Linked DNA regions of Homo sapiens: region 1 is linked to region 2. A link means that fine-mapping ties the variant in region 2 to the expression of a gene that starts in the linked region. Tissue or cell type: cerebellar hemisphere. Region 2 holds a variant in brackets; the other region holds the start of a gene. All regions are shown on one strand. Distances are from middle to middle.

Evidence for each region. PIP is the estimated chance that this variant, and not a neighbour inherited with it, causes the effect.
Region 1: GTF2F1 starts here. The variant in region 2 is fine-mapped to the expression of GTF2F1 in cerebellar hemisphere (GTEx, PIP 0.97).

Annotation. Positions count from the first base shown.
Region 1 is chr19:6,388,199-6,396,271 of GRCh38, reverse strand. GTF2F1 (general transcription factor IIF subunit 1) reads left to right here and starts at 3,108. Exons shown (of 13, transcript NM_002096.3): 1 at 3,108-3,288; 2 at 3,369-3,415; 3 at 4,298-4,370; 4 at 6,635-6,828. The coding sequence starts at 3,277. It overlaps MIR6885 (microRNA 6885), which reads left to right and starts at 6,569; the gene lies at 6,569-6,634. MIR6790 (microRNA 6790) reads left to right here and starts at 3,289; the gene lies at 3,289-3,351. It also overlaps the pseudogene LOC390877.
Region 2 is chr19:6,412,751-6,420,829 of GRCh38, reverse strand. It overlaps KHSRP (KH-type splicing regulatory protein), which reads left to right. Exons shown (of 19, transcript NM_001366299.1): 5 at 359-408; 6 at 686-757; 7 at 1,570-1,627; 8 at 1,954-2,128; 9 at 2,249-2,347; 10 at 2,751-2,849; 11 at 2,989-3,091; 12 at 3,743-3,843; 13 at 3,948-4,092; 14 at 4,180-4,340; 15 at 4,423-4,532; 16 at 4,934-5,022; 17 at 5,096-5,296; 18 at 5,373-5,450; 1 more. The coding sequence ends at 5,806. It overlaps MIR3940 (microRNA 3940), which reads left to right and starts at 4,319; the gene lies at 4,319-4,420. RefSeq lists an enhancer at 7,484-8,079. The variant C/AC (reference allele first, on the strand shown) is at 4,398.

The sequences.
Region 1 (8,073 bases), 25 kb after region 2:
CATACTCTTGCTGTAGGGTGGCATCTTAGGGGTATGGTTCTTTTTTTTTTTTTTTTTTTTTTTGAGGCAGAGTCTTGCTCTGTCGCCCAGGCTGGAGTGCAATGGCGCTATCTCGGCTCACTGCAAGCTCCGCCTCCCGGGTTCATGCCATTCTCCTGCCTCAGCCTCCTGAGTAGCTGGGACTACAGGCACCCGCCACCGCGCCCGGCTAATTTTCTTTGTGTTTTTAGCAGAGACGGGGTTTCACCATGTTAGCCAGGATGGTCTCGATCTCCTGACCTCATGATCTGCCCGCCTCGGCCTCCCAAAGTGCTGGGATTACAGGCGTGAGCCACCGCGCCCGGCCTCTTAGGGGTATGGTTCTGTTCTCAAGGGCATAGCCAGGCACGTTGTGTGTTTGTGCCGCTTTGGATGAAGATGTGAACTTGAGGCCAGGTGTGGTGGCTCACGCCTATAATCCCTGCACTTTGGGAGGCCGAGGCGGGTGGATCCCTTGATGTCAGGAGTTTGAGACCAGCCTGGCCAACAGGGTGAAACCCCATCACTACTAAAAATACAAAAAAAATTAGCTGGGTGTGGTGGTGCACACCTATTCGTGAGGCTGAAGCAGGAGAATCGCTTGAACCCAGGAGCCAAAGGTTGCAGTGAGCCGAGATTGTGCCACTGCACTCCAGACTGGGCAACAAAGCAAGACTCCATTTAAAAAAAAAAATGATGTGGCCAGGTGCGGTGGGCTCATGCCTAGCACTGTAATCCTAGCACTTTGGGAGGCCGAGGTGGGCAGATCACTTCAGGTCAGGAGATCGAGACCATCTTGGGTAACACGGTGAAAACCTGTCTCTATTAAAAATACAAAAAATTAGCTGGGCGTGGTGATGGGCACCTGTAGGCCTAGCTACTTGGGAGGCTGAGGAAGGAGAATGGCGTGAACCCGGGAGGCAGAGCTTGCAGTGAGCCGAGATCGTGCCACTGCACTCTAGCCTGGGCGACAGAGCGAGACTCCGTCTCAAAAAAATAAAATAAAAAAAAACAAAGACGTGAACTTGAGCAGGCCAGGCCCTTCACACACGGCATCTCCTTAAAGCATCCTGAGGACTCTATCATCCCATTTTACAGTGGAGGGAACCGAGGTTCAGTGAGAGGCAGGGACTTGCCCACGCTCCCAGTCTCATCCCATACTCCCCTTCTCTCTGTTCCAGCCCCATATCCTACTCCCCTTCCCTCTGTCCCAGCCCCAACCCATACTCCCCTTCTCTTTGTCCCAGCCCCAGGGGGCTTCAGTTCTTTGAATTTGAAACTCACTTCTCCCTTGCTGTTTCCTCTGCTTGGAAAATCCCTGCCTGCCCCAGTTCCTTCTGGCCACAACTTCCATCTGGCCTTCTCTAGCCTCCATCTAGAGCTTCCCCCCATCACTCCTTGTCTGAGACACCTATTTCCTCCACAGCAATGGCCACAGTCTGTCATGATCTTCTCTGTTTACTCGTTCTTTTTTTTTCCTTCTTTTCCTTCTTTTTTTTTTTTTTTTTTTTTTGAGACGGAGTTTCGCTCTTGTTGCCCAGACTGGAGGGCAATGGCGCGATCTCGGCTCACCACAACCTCTGCCTCCCAGGTTCAAGCGATTCTCCTGTCTCAGCCTCCCGAGTAGCTGGGATTACAGGCATGTGCTACCACGCCCGGCTAATCTTGTATTTTTAGTAGAGACGGGGTTTCTCCACGTTGGTCAGGCTGGTCTCGAACTCTCAACCTCAGGTGATCCGCCCGCCTCGGCCTCCCAAAGTGCTGGGATTACAGGCATGAGCCACCGTGCCCAGCCGTTTACTCGTTCTTGTCTCCCCCAAGCCAGACACTCCATGAGGGCAAGGACTATTTCTGCCTCCCTCATTCCTATATTCCTAGGGGTTGGCGGTTCCTGACATTTAGTGGTGGATGAGAAATAAATGAAAACAGACACATCGACGGTGTCTGTAGTTCATGGCCCAACTTTTGTGTCTTGCCCGCCTTCCCTTTGCTTAGCCAACTCCTATGCATCCCTCAGTGCCCAACTGAAACCTCCCCTCTTCTCTGAGCCCTCAGAGCCCCGCTGTGCTTCTCCTGCTCCTTCCTGGGTTGTAGATTCCCATGCTGTGACTCTGTCTCTTCCACGACACTGTAACCCTCGAGAGGACACTGTAATCCTCCGTGGGGAGCTGGTTTGACAGATTCACCTTGCGGGGCCCCGAACCCAGGAGGTGCTGGAGTATTTGCGAAGTGGAGCAATGAATGGTTGCGCCGTGAGCATGCGCAGTTGTGTTACTGCCATGATTCGGGGGATGTGTGCATGCCTGGAACGGGGTAGGGGATCCTGCATCTCCCTCCTGTTCTCGGCAGCTTCCTTCCCTTCCCCCCAGGAAGCCAGCCAGCCGCCCCCGCGACGTTACCCTTCTCCTGGGGCCTCAGAGCCCTGCCCATCTCGGGCAGCTTGGACTTGCAAAGACCCATCCGGCCAGCAGCTCTTGGGGTGGTCGCGCCCCGACCCCGCCCAGGCTCTGACCCCTCCTGGCTCGGCTCAACGTCACAAGGGTCCCCGCCCCGGTCATTTTGCGGGAATGACGGGGTCCACCCCTTCGGGGTAGGGGGAGGAAATGAACCCCAAACAGACCCATGGGGAGCCAAGCGGCGGTTCGACCCGACCCGAGTAGGCCTCGGTTGCTATGGTGACGCGGCCTTCTGGGCCCCCCAGGTCCAGAGCGGCAAGGCGCATGCGCAAAGTGCCTGGGAGCCCGCAAGGGGGATTCGTCTCCCTCTTCCCACCCAGGATGCCCCACGGTCCTTGGGTGCTGACGTCACGAGAGAGGGCGGTCCCCCATTTGATGAAGTTAACCGCGTTATATACAAGAGCGCCAGCGACAGAGGCCCGTTAGTTTATCTCAGACTCGGCCTAGGTTTGCTGAGTCTAAAAAGGGACCGCGGTGGACCTTTTGAGGTGACCATAGCCGCCGAGGAGCATAAGTGACTGCGCACTGAGGTGGCCACAGTCGCTAAGAAGGTTGCCATCGCGACGCGGCTGCTCGAGGGTTTCGCTTCCGGGTTAGGCGGCCGCAGAAGCGTAGACCGAGTAGCTTGAGCGCCTCTTCCGGTTACCTTTTCCCAGCGCCAGAGGCGCCTAGGGTTGGGGTCCTCGCTCAGGCACAGAGACCCGACACCGAGCGGCGGCTTCCCCGGGATCGAGGGACGCGCACGCCAGAGGAGACGAAAGGAACCCGGGTCGGACCAGATCGGAACCACTGACCATTGCCCATGGCGGCCCTAGTGAGTGTGGATTTGGCGGGGTTCGGGGGTTCCGACGGCGACCTCGGCGACCCCTCACTCACCGCTTCCTCTTTCCGCAGGGCCCTAGCAGCCAGAATGTCACTGAATACGTCGTTCGAGTTCCTAAGTAAGTCCCCAGCCCCATCTCCCACTCCTCTCCACCCCCCAAAAATGAAAACCTTCACGATCTTCTTAGCCAGCCATTTCTGGCCCTGTCTGTGGTTCTCCCTCCAGACCGGGAGAGACTTGGAGGGCAGGGCTGGGATTAAGCTGAGGCTTCTCTGGGGACAACACTGCTTTTTTGAACGAATGAATGAATGAGTGCATTAATACACGGTGATCCAGCCCCCTGGCCTAACCTTCGAGGAGTATATGGTCCCATGATGCCCAGGCCAGCTGTAAGGACATATTCCTCGTCCTGTTTCAAAGTGGTCAGGCTGTCTTTCCTTTCCAGGCCTTTGTACATCCTGTTCCTCTGCCATGAGTGCCTCCCCTCAACCCCTAAACTGTGACTCTGCTGGGTGAATTCTTGATGATTCTGCAAAACTCAACTCCAGTATCTTCCTCCTCCAGGAAATACTCCCTGCCTGTCCTCCCTCCTCCCCAAGGCTGAGTTCACAATAATCTCCACATCTTGGGTTCCCCCAAATCTTCGTCCCTCCATCTGCTCTTCTTCTGCCTGGGGTCAGGAGAGGATGGGTCTAGCTTCTCTGGCAGACTGGGAATCCTTGGAGTCTTCCGTATCCAGTGTTGCCAGGCAAAACAGGCTGAATGAAGCTGGGTGGGTTTGTTGAGTGAATTGAATTGAATTAATGATTCAATTGAATGGAATGATTGAATTGAATTAATGGTTCAATTGAATTGAGTGATTGAATTAAAGTAATGATTTGATTGAATTAACGATCCAGTTGGGTGGTTGATTGAATTAATGGTTCAATAGCATTGACTGATTAAATTAATGATTGAATTGCTGTATTGGATTGACACTACCTCTTCTCATCCACTCCAGGAATACAACCAAAAAATATAACATCATGGCTTTTAATGCAGCCGACAAAGTCAACTTTGCTACGTGGAATCAGGTAAGTCTCTGAGTCCTGGGGGTCAGGGGCTGGGGTGGTGAGAGAACTTGACCCTGACCTTGGTGGTTGTGATAGTTGCTTAACTGTCATAGTCACTAAGTCTTAATTTTCTCACTTTTCTCCAAGTGAAGAAAAGATAGATGACAAAGGGTTGGGTGCAGTAGTTCACACCTGTAATCCCAGCACTTTGGGAGGCTGAGGCAGGAAGCTTGCTTAAGGCCAGGAGTTTGAGACCAGCCTGGGCAATACAATAGCAAGACCCCAACTCTACAAAAAAATTAAAAAGTTAGTTGGGGCTGATAGCGTGGGTCTGTAGTCCTACATAGGAGGCTGAGGTAGGAGGATCGCTTGAGCCCAGGGGTTCAAGGCTGCAGTGAGCTATGATTGTACGACTGCACTCCAGCCTGGATAACAGAGCAAGACCCTGCCTCAAAAAAAAAAAAAAAAAAAAAAAAAAAAAAACGGAAATGGCAAAGGCCCAGGCCTAGCTCCTGGGTGTCCCTGTAAGTTAGGTTTGGTAGGCCCACCAGAGGCCTCTCCTTAAAGGAGAACATTTAGAAGCTGTGCCCACTGTTGGACATTTTTGGCCATGGTTTATCTGGGCAAGGGAGGGGACTGGGCTGGGGGCTTTCCCAGAGCCCCTGCCATCAGAGGCTCTAGAAAGGACTTTGGGAGCCATTAAAGCATCTTCAATTGGGAAGTTGTAGTGTGTGTGATCTGGCTGCTATGGGGAGACAAACTGTGGGTTTGAGGGCAAATAAACGGAGACCAAGGTAGAAGCAACTGGACTGGTCTAGGTGAGTCCTGGCAGGGCACTGGAGGCAGTGGAGGTTATGAGATGTGGCTGATTCTAGAGTGTTTTGGAAATGGTATATATGGACCTTAAATCAAGAGCTTAAGGGTAATTCGGATCACATTAGCCATGTAGGTCACGATAAATTGTTAATTTGTAGAGATTTTGGTGCCTTAATGTCAGCAAGTGTTGCACAATGAGTTTCTTTTTATTTATTTTATTTTATTTTTTTGTGATGGAGTCTCTTGTCATCCAGGCTGGAGTGCAGTGGCGCGACCTGGGCTCACTGCAACCTCCACCTCCCAGGTTCAAGCCATTCTCCTGCCTCAGCCTCCCAAGTAGCTGGGATTACAGGCGCCCACCACCACGCCTAGCTAATTTTTGTATTTTTAGTAGAGACGAAGTTTCGCCATGTTGGTCAGGCTGGTCTTGAACTCCTGACCTCAAGTGATCCACCCGCCTCAGCCTTCCACCATGCCCAGCCTTTTTATTTTTAGGAAATAGATATAGGATCTCACTATGTTGCCCAGGCTGGTCTTTTTTTTTTTTTTTTTTTTTTTTGGGGACTGAGTCTTGCTTTGTCGCCCAGACTGGAGTGCAGCGCCAGGATCTCGGCTCACTGCAAGCTCCGCCTCCCGGGTTCACGCCATTCTCCTGCCTCAGCCTCCCAAGTAGCTGGGATTATAGGCGCCTGCCATCATGCCCGGCTTATTTTTTGTATTTTTAGTAGAGACGGGGTTTCACCGTGTTAGCCAGGATGGTCTCAATCTCCTGACCTCGTGATCCACCTGCCTTGGCCTCCCGAAGTGCTGGGATTACAGGCGTGAGCCACCGCGCCTGGCCTTTTTTTTCTTAAGACAGAGTGTCACTCTATCACCCAGGCTGGAGTGCAGTGGCATGATCTCGGCTCACTGCAACCTCCGCCTCCCAGGTTCAAGCCATTCTGATGCCAGGCTGGTCTTAAACTCCTGAGCTCAAGTGATCCTTCTGCCTTGGCCTCCCAAAGTTCTGGGATTACAGGTGTGAGCCACAGCACAATGAGTTTCGATATGCATGCATTCTGGAGAGATGTGTGGAAATTCTAGGTACTTAGACATTTTTTGAAAAGAATCCTGGAACCAGATGCCTGCTGTAGATAATAGGGAAGTCTAATTAATTACTTCTACATTCCTCAGATAAGGAATTTTGCCTCCGATGGCCTGCTTGATGGTCACCAGGTGGTCTTTTTCTCTTTAATTTTAATTTGGAAATAATTTCAAGCTTTTAAGTTGCAAAAATAGAGCGCAAGGCTCGCCCAAATTCCCTTTACCCAGATTTGTCAAAGGCTACCGTTCTCCTCCCTTGTTGCCAAGTGGTAAGTTGGTTTTGAGAATCTAGAGCTTGGCCTAGGGCAAGGAAGGGCGTTCCTGGAGGGGGGCACTGCGCAAGCAAAGCCAGGGACCCTGAGAGGCTTTGCTTCCTGCTCCCCTAGGCTCGGCTGGAGCGGGACTTGAGCAACAAGAAAATCTACCAAGAGGAGGAGATGCCCGAATCGGGCGCGGGCAGTGAGTTCAACCGCAAGCTTCGGGAGGAGGCTCGGAGGAAGAAGTACGGCATCGTCCTCAAGGAGTTCCGGCCCGAGGACCAGCCCTGGCTGCTCCGGGTCAACGGCAAATCAGGCAGGAAGTAAGTGGTGGGGCGGTGGCGGTGCCGGCTTAGTGACCAGTCCACATCCCCAGGCCTCAACTTACATACTTTGTGGGGTACCCTCTCTGAACCTCAGATTCCCACTGCTGCAGTGGAAGTGCTGGCACTTCCATCCCTGTAGGATTTTATTATTTATTTATTTATTTATTTATTTATGTTATCTTATTTTACTTACTTGTATTTTTTTGAGACAGAGTCTTGCTCTGTCGCCCAGGCTGGAGTGCAGTAGCACGATCTTGGCTCACTGCAACCCACACCTCCCAGGTTCAAGTTATTCTCCTGCCTGAGCCTCCTGAGTAGCTGGGATTACAGGTGCCTGCCACCACCACGCCCAGCTAATTTTTGTATTTTTAGTAGAGACAGGGTTTCACCATATTGGTCAGGCTGGTCTCGAACTTGGCGATCCTCCCGCCTCGGCCTCCCGTAGTGCTGGGATTACAGGCGTGAGCCACCGTGCCCAGCCTACTTATTTATTTTGAGACAGGGTCTCACTCCGTTGCCCAGGCTGGAGTGCAGTGGTGCGATCGTAGCTCACTGCAGGCTCCAACTCCTGGGCTCGAGATCTTCCCACCTCAGCATCCTGAGTAGCTGGGACTATAGGCACGCCCCACCATGCCTGGCTAATTTTTGTATTTTTGGTAGAGATGGGGTCTTGCTGCGTTGCTCAAGCTGGTCTTGAACTCCTGGGGTCAAGTGATCCTCCTACCTTGGTCTCCCAAAGTGCTGGGATTATAGGTATGAGCCACTGCCCAGGCCCTGGGGTTGTGTTTTTGAAGACAGTTCACTGAGTTGGTGCTTGTGCCTGGCTCTGAGGCAGCTCTGAGTGCCACAATGCAGGAAGCTTAGGTGGCCAGCCCTGGGAGCTCATGACACTTGAGATGACCTCTCAGAGGGGGCAGACTGAGGGCAGAACAGGAGGGGTCCAGGTTAGGTTGATGAAGGGTGCTCCAGGCACAGCAGTTGGGTGATAGTGACAGACACAGGCAGCTCACACAGGGCAGTGGGTGCCAGGATGTGCTGGGTCCAGCGGAGCCTTGGAAAGCTGTAGGCAGGGAAGAGGCACTCACCCAGACTGTCCGGAACTTTGGGGTAGAAAAGAATGAGGTAGAGGCCTCAAGGAGGCTGGGCAGTTGTTTAGGCTTGAGGAAATGGTGGCCCGGGCCAGGTGTCCACTTCAGATTTGGCCATGCCATGGCTGGGCGCGGTGGCTCACGCCTGTAATCC
Region 2 (8,079 bases):
TCATTTTTTGTTTGTTTGTTTTTAATGGGCCAGTAGTTTCATAAAATACTAGGAAAATAAGATGAAAAGGACATACAGCCAGCTTTTTAGAACTGAGAGACATAGAGTGACTGTCAGCTTGCTACTCAGTGCTCCCTCTCGCCCTGAATCAATGGGACGGCACCAGGCCAAGGCCCACAATGCCCAGAGCAAGCCTCTCGGGGCACAGATGGGGAAACTGAGGCCTTGGCAGTTTTGTGGCCTGTGTGGTCAGACTCTGCTTAGACCTATGGTGGCCTTGGCTTCAAGTAGACCTTCCAGAGCTGCTGTCCTCCTCCCTTCCCACTTGAGGACTGACCTTTGGCGTGTCTCTTTACAGGACTTCAATGACAGAAGAGTACAGGGTCCCAGACGGCATGGTGGGCCTGAGTGAGTGTGGGTCACCTTGGGTGGGGAGGCCCACTCTTCCCCAGGAGGAAGTGTCCTGTGAGCTCCTGCCAGCCCAGAAGCCCTGGTCTGAGAGGGCTCCTATGTGCTGTTCTCATTTGTCCCTCCTTCGTCCCCTCTGGGCAGAGGACAGGAGCTCTCTAGAGGACTGCTGCCCTCCTGAACGTCAGAGGGGCTGGGGCCCCGGCCACACAGTCTCCTGAGGCCTGGGCTCCCTTCCCTCATCACGCTTTGCTTTTCTCCTTCTTTCTCCATCCAGTCATTGGCAGAGGAGGTGAACAAATTAACAAAATCCAACAGGATTCAGGCTGCAAAGTACAGATTTCTCCAGGTATAAGAGCGTCAGGTTCCTGCCAGAGTGGGGGCCAGGGTTGGGCCCTTTGCACTTTCCTTTAATTACTTAATTTCCACGGGGACTGTGGACAGGAAGCGAGCTGGCGCTTGTTGGTGCTTACTACGGACCAGGCTCAGTGCAGTATCTCACTCCACTAGTACTGCCCACGGGGCACAGCTGTGACTTTTTTTATTTTCAGTGGGTGGGTATGGACTGAGGTGGCAGGGCTAGCATTTCGCACAGGGGCCTGGTTCCAGACACCGAGCTTCGACGCACTGCACTGACCTGCCGCGTGGGTGAAAGCACCCCGGCAAGACTGCGTGAGACAGGGTGGTGCCTTGGACAGAGGGGTCACTCTGAGGTCAGGCCCAGGAGCAAATCCCGGTTCTGGCTGCACATCTGCTCTCAGGCAATGTAGTTACCTTTCGAATCTCAGAGTCCTGAGCTACAGAAAGCCTGCTGGGTAGGGGGTTCTGAGGCTTCCTTGGGCGTGTAGCACGTGTTGTCTATAGAAGCGGCTCTGGTCATCATTGGTAGTGGGGGTGGCCGGCTCCTGGACCTTCTGGAATCTGCAACTCCCTCCACCTCATCCTTTTCCCTTAAAGTCCTACCTCCCTTCTGGGATCTCTTCCCAACCTTGGCCTTGCATCGAGCAGCCTCCCAGGTGTTTAGGGGAAGTAAACTGATCTGTCAGGCACTGAATGGGACAGAAGTGGCCCTTGGTTGTTCTGAAAGTTTCCTCGTGTCCAAGGCAGGCCTTTCTCTGCCTGTGGGCCAGGGAGGGCACTGACTCTATCTCCTCTTTTCAGACAGCGGTGGCCTACCCGAGCGCAGTGTGTCCTTGACAGGAGCCCCAGAATCTGTCCAGTAAGTCCCCACAGGGCCTCTCATTGTGATGTGGGGGGCAGGCAGAAGCCTGCTCTGTCCGTTTGAATTGAAAGTTGGGAGCAACTTGCACGCCATGTCCTCCATTCTTGCCCCCATCTCCAGACAGCCATGTTAACATGAGGCTGATTCCCCGGCAGCCCAAGACCTGGGGAACCTGGAGCCTGAACAGCCCCTGTGACTGGCCCCTCTTCCCTGTCATCCTTGCACACTCTGGGGTCGCCTTCCCTTTGAGCTGGGTGGGCCACCAGACCAGTACCTTTCTCCAGCGGTGGCACCCGCTCATCCCCCGCTCCTCCCCTTCCCAGGAAAGCCAAGATGATGCTGGATGACATTGTGTCTCGGGGTCGTGGGGGCCCCCCAGGACAGTTCCACGACAACGCCAACGGGGGCCAGAACGGCACCGTGCAGGAGATCATGATCCCCGCGGGCAAGGCCGGCCTGGTCATTGGCAAGGGCGGGGAGACCATTAAGCAGCTGCAGGTGAGGGCAGCACCTGGGCAGCTTCCTCTGCATCCGTGTGCCACACCCCACCGCCACCACCACAGCAGCCCAGGAAGTCCTGGGAGAGCCCAGCACTAACGGTTAACCTTGCTTGTAAAGGAACGCGCTGGAGTGAAGATGATCTTAATTCAGGACGGATCTCAGAATACGAATGTGGACAAACCTCTCCGCATCATTGGGGATCCTTACAAAGTGCAGGTGAGCACGCCCTGGGGTGGTGGAGGGGGTTCTGGAGAGGCACGGGCAGGTGGGCAGGGCCAGCGGTCTCGGGGTCTGCATTCCGCCAGAGAGATATGTGAACAGTCGGTCATAACACCAAGAGGCTTGCAAGAGCGCTGGCTCGTAGGATGGCCCTGAACTGACTCCCAGCTTTGTGTGTGTGAGGCACCGGCCTCACCTCTGACCTTCTGCTTTTTTATCTGGAAACGGGGCTGCTGGTAGTGCCTCCCCATTAAAGTGGCAGGTAGAGAGCTCAGTAGGGTGCTGTGCTGGGCTCACCCAGGGTTCGTGGGTCCTTAGTTGAGGCCCGCACCCCCGAGGAGGTGGGGGGGTGTGGGGCAGCAGGGCTCACCCATGGGGGCTGCTTCCTGTGTGTTTGCAGCAAGCCTGTGAGATGGTGATGGACATCCTCCGGGAACGTGACCAAGGCGGCTTTGGGGACCGGAATGAGTACGGATCTCGGATTGGCGGAGGCATCGATGTGAGTGTGGGCCCTGCCTTCACCCCCCTCTCCCCCGCCAGTGGAGGGAGGGGCCGGGGTGAGTGGCTCCTTGTGGCCAGTGGGCAGCAGAGGGCAGCAGAGCTGCGGGCCGAGCTGACGCTGCTGCCTCCCTCCCCAGGTGCCAGTGCCCAGGCATTCTGTTGGCGTGGTCATTGGCCGGAGTGGAGAGATGATCAAGAAGATCCAGAATGATGCTGGCGTGCGGATACAGTTCAAGCAAGGTCAGGGCCTGGCCCACCCTGCCCCTGGCCAGTGCACCCCCACCCTCTTTGGGAGGCAGGCTCTGAGGGAGCTGGGCACCGTGGTCAGCCAGGTGGCCTCCATAGCACCTCACGGCTCTTAGTCCAGCCGTCAGAACATGGCCAGTCCCTTCTCTTCTCTGGGACAGACACATGAGGGCTTTCCACATCCAGGGGGAACGTGTGTTCCTATCCCTATCAGATCTCCTCTTCCTCCCCCTACGATGGAGCCTATCCTGACAGGACAGCCCTGGGTGCCCCGCAGGCTGGATCAGGGCACTCCACCTCAGCTCTGGGCTCTTGCCAGTCCTCAGGCAGTCTCTGAGCTGCCTGCCGTGGGGAGAAGGGCCCCTCTGGCTTTTCAGAGATTTATTGTTCTGTAAAATCTCTCAGTGCTGGGGGTGCTGTGTGCTGGAAGAAGCTTGAGCCACCTCCTGGCTTGGCCGTGGGTTTCCTTCTCTGGGAATGTGGGCCGCCTCCCCCTCAATCCCTGAGCGAGTGGAGGCTGGGAGCGGCGCAGCGCGTCTGAGATCTCAGGCCGGCGTGGTGTCTGCGCTGGAGGCGGCGTTGCAGGGCTCTGGGGTGGGCTCTTCTTTTAAACTTGTGTCTCTGCTCTCTCGGTGCTGGCCTCAGATGACGGGACAGGGCCCGAGAAGATTGCTCATATAATGGGGCCCCCAGACAGGTGCGAGCACGCAGCCCGGATCATCAACGACCTCCTCCAGAGCCTCAGGGTAGGTGGCCCCGGGTGCTGAAGGGGCTGGCAGGGCCTCCAGGGGAGTGCAAGACCAGACCGGCTTCCAGGGTTCATCATCCTCCTCCTCCTCTTGTCTTGCAGAGTGGTCCCCCAGGTCCTCCAGGGGGTCCAGGCATGCCCCCGGGGGGCCGAGGCCGAGGAAGAGGCCAAGGCAATTGGGGTCCCCCTGGCGGGGAGATGACCTTCTCCATCCCCACTCACAAGTGTGGGCTGGTCATCGGCCGAGGTGAGTGTGGCCCCCTGCACCCTATCCCTTGCCCCCTCTTCCCTGGGCCATCACTGCAGGCCACCTTCACCTTCTGCGTTTCTGCAGGTGGCGAGAATGTGAAAGCCATAAACCAGCAGACGGGAGCCTTCGTAGAGATCTCCCGGCAGCTGCCACCCAACGGGGACCCCAACTTCAAGTTGTTCATCATCCGGGGTTCACCCCAGCAGATTGACCACGCCAAGCAGCTTATCGAGGAAAAGATCGAGGTGGGTTGGGGCGGGCTCTGGGGATTTGGTCTCACAGCCCGGATCCCAGCCCACTTA[C/AC]CTTGGTTACTCTCCTTCCTTCTAGGGTCCTCTCTGCCCAGTTGGACCAGGCCCAGGTGGCCCAGGCCCTGCTGGCCCAATGGGGCCCTTCAATCCTGGGCCCTTCAACCAGGGGCCACCCGGGGCTCCCCCACAGTGAGTATCCTCTGCCTCCTGGGTTTTGAGGCCGGGGGCTTACTGAGCTGGCAAGAAGAATAGCAGACCCCATTTCCCTTTCCCTAGAAGTGCAGGCGGGGGGCCTCATCCAGCCCATTTTTGTGGATACCATCAACAGGCCCTCTCCTGTCTACTGGTAGAGCATGTGCCTTTCAGCATCCCTCTGTGCACGTGCAAGTTTCGCGGCTTCTTTCATGTCCTCAAGCTGACGCTGCGCGTCCTTCGAGTTGCTTCTTGTCTAGGCCTTTCCCAGGCGCCCCGTTGAGCCTGGTGGTCTGGGTCTCTGGCGCCTCCCCACTGAAAAACATCCCCACCCCAGGTGGTCCGGCTGCGGCCACCCCCGCACCACTGCTCAAGCATCCCTTTCTTCTCTCCTGCAGTGCCGGGGGGCCCCCTCCTCACCAGTACCCACCCCAGGGCTGGGGCAATACCTACCCCCAGTGGCAGCCGCCTGCTCCTCATGACCCAAGTAAGTGATGGGCCACCTGGCGGAGGGCAGGCCCTGTTCTGTCCCCCCGTCTCACCCGAGGTATCTCCTGCAGGCAAAGCAGCTGCAGCGGCCGCGGACCCCAACGCCGCGTGGGCCGCCTACTACTCACACTACTACCAGCAGCCCCCGGGCCCCGTCCCCGGCCCCGCACCGGCCCCTGCGGCCCCACCGGCTCAGGGTGAGCCCCCTCAGCCCCCACCCACCGGCCAGTCGGACTACACTAAGGCCTGGGAAGAGTATTACAAAAAGATCGGTGAGTCTGCAGGGTGGCGGGGGGGCTCCAGCCCTGCCGGGGGAGTGGTTTCTGACCTGTCTCGGCGCCCGCACAGGCCAGCAGCCCCAGCAGCCCGGAGCACCCCCACAGCAGGACTACACGAAGGCTTGGGAGGAGTACTACAAGAAGCAAGGTGAGTGGCCACCATGCGGGGACAGGGGCAGGGGCAGCCCTCACCCACAGCCTCTCACCTGCCTTTGTCCACCCACAGCGCAAGTGGCCACCGGAGGGGGTCCAGGAGCTCCCCCAGGCTCCCAGCCAGACTACAGTGCCGCCTGGGCGGAATATTACAGACAGCAGGCCGCTTACTACGGACAGACCCCAGGTCCTGGCGGCCCCCAGCCGCCGCCCACGCAGCAGGGACAGCAGCAGGCAAGTGGGAATTGCCACCCTCCTCCTCCTCCTTTCTCCTTCCAACCCCCGGCCACCGTCCATCCTGCCTTAGTGGGTAGCGCCGGAAACCCCTTCCCCTGCGGGGTGTGCCCTTGATGCCTGCAGCGGGGGCCGTGTGGCCGGAGGTCTCCGGGAGTCCCCACGCACCGCCAGGGAAGCATTCGCTGGGTCCAGAGGTTAAACGAAGAGGCCTCCCTGCGCCGGCTGCTTGTTCCTGTGTGCCGCTGTCGTGATGCTGGGGAGCGCTGAGACTCGCAGGCGGGACTTCTGAACTGCTGGGGAGTCGGGGGGCAGGCAGACAGCGCGGACGGTGGGCACCGGCCCGGCCGCCACCACCTCGCTCACAATCTGGCCACTTGGGAAGAAAACGTCTATTTTTTCCCCTTCTCTGCATCACTTTTTTGGTTTTTGTTCTTTTTATTCTTTTATTTTTTAAACCCATGATCTTTTTTCCTGTGTCCAAGTGACTGTGTTGCAGGCGGCCTGGCTCTGGCAGGGACTGGTGGGGACGCGGGGAGCGGCCCAGGCCCCTGCCCCGCCGGGCTCAGCCTCCCATGCGCTCGCGCTTGCCTGTGTCCCGGGCTTGTCTGTGAAGTGGGCGTGAAGATCGTTGCCACCTTCCAACCTACCTCACAGGGGTGTTGTGGGGACACCATGATCTCTGGATTGTTCATGTCGTCGTGCTGCGCCGGGAGCCACCGCCCTCCGGAGACAGGGCAGCTCCCCTACGACCCTAGCGCCTCCGCCCTCCGCGGCCCCTCTCCTCTCTTCCTGCTCTGTCCCTCCTTCTCCATCAGGGAGCAGCGTGACTTCAGCGAGTCCCGCGAGCACCTGGCTAGACAGTTAACAAGCACGTCCTTCCAGCCTGAGCCAGCGCAGGTTTGGGAGGGGGCTTCCTGGCCCCCCCCACGGTGTTCCAGCCCCTCCTCTCTTCCGCCCCCTAGTCTCCCACCCTTCCCTCCCCGTAGTGACCAATTCCTATCTCTTCCCTCTCCGCAGGCTCAATGAATCGAATGAATGTGAACTTCTTCATCTGTGAAAAATCTTTTTTTTTTCCATTTTGTTCTGTTTGGGGGCTTCTGTTTTGTTTGGCGAGAGAGCGATGGCTGCCGTGGGGAGTACTGGGGAGCCCTCGCGGCAAGCAGGGTGGGGGGGACTTGGGGGCATGCCGGGCCCTCACTCTCTCGCCTGTTCTGTGTCTCACATGCTTTTTCTTTCAAAATTGGGATCCTTCCATGTTGAGCCAGCCAGAGAAGATAGCGAGATCTAAATCTCTGCCAAAAAAAAAAAAAAACTTAAAAATTAAAAACACAAAGAGCAAAGCAGAACTTATAAAATTATATATATATATATTAAAAAGTCTCTATTCTTCACCCCCCAGCCTTCCTGAACCTGCCTCTCTGAGGATAAAGCAATTCATTTTCTCCCACCCTCGGCCCTCTTGTTTTTAAAATAAACTTTTAAAAAGGAAAAAAAAAAGTCACTCTTGCTATTTCTTTTTTTTAGTTAGAGGTGGAACATTCCTTGGACCAGGTGTTGTATTGCAGGACCCCTTCCCCCAGCAGCCAAGCCCCCTCTTCTCTCCCTCCCGCCCTGGCTCAGCTCCCGCGGCCCCGCCCGTCCCCCCTCCCAGGACTGGTCTGTTGTCTTTTCATCTGTTCAAGAGGAGATTGAAACTGAAAACAAAATGAGAACAACAAAAAAAATTGTATGGCAGTTTTTACTTTTTATCGCTCGTTTTTAACTTCACAAATAAATGATAACAAAACCTCCCCGTCTGCGGGTGCTGTCTGTCTCCCCCCCTTTCCTTCCCTCCCTGTAGTTTTGAAGCGGATGTTTGTTCTTTATAGATGTTGTTTAAAAAGCCTGATAATGGTGATTGAAATTTACAAACTTTGTGTTTTTTTTTTTTTAAGAAAAATATAAAATAGTTTTCTTCAGGCTCAATGTGCTTTCCTAACCGTGCCCCCCCCCCTTTTTTTTTTTTGTTAAATAAAGTGCTTTTTGTTTAAAAAAGACTGCGTGCTGGCCGCAGTTGTGTTTGTGAGAGGAAACAAGTTGAGCAAGTCTCAGCCAATTAGAGTGGGGTGTGGCCCCCCAAGACTTTCCCCTTCCCATGTGGGAAGGGGAGGCTGGCTGAGCCCAGCACTGCTGTCTTCCCCTACCCAGTTTCCCTCCAGCACCTTGGGGAGCAAGGCGCTCAGGAGGGCCTCAGGGACCGGCGTTCCCATGGATGGGCTGTTGCTACAGGAGGTCCTCTGGCCTGTTAACGTTCAGAGCCCTGAGGTGGGAGCCAGGCCCGCGTCAGTGCTCGCTGGGTGATGGGACCGGATGTGAGGTGGGAGAGGGCACCGAGGGGCCACCCAAGC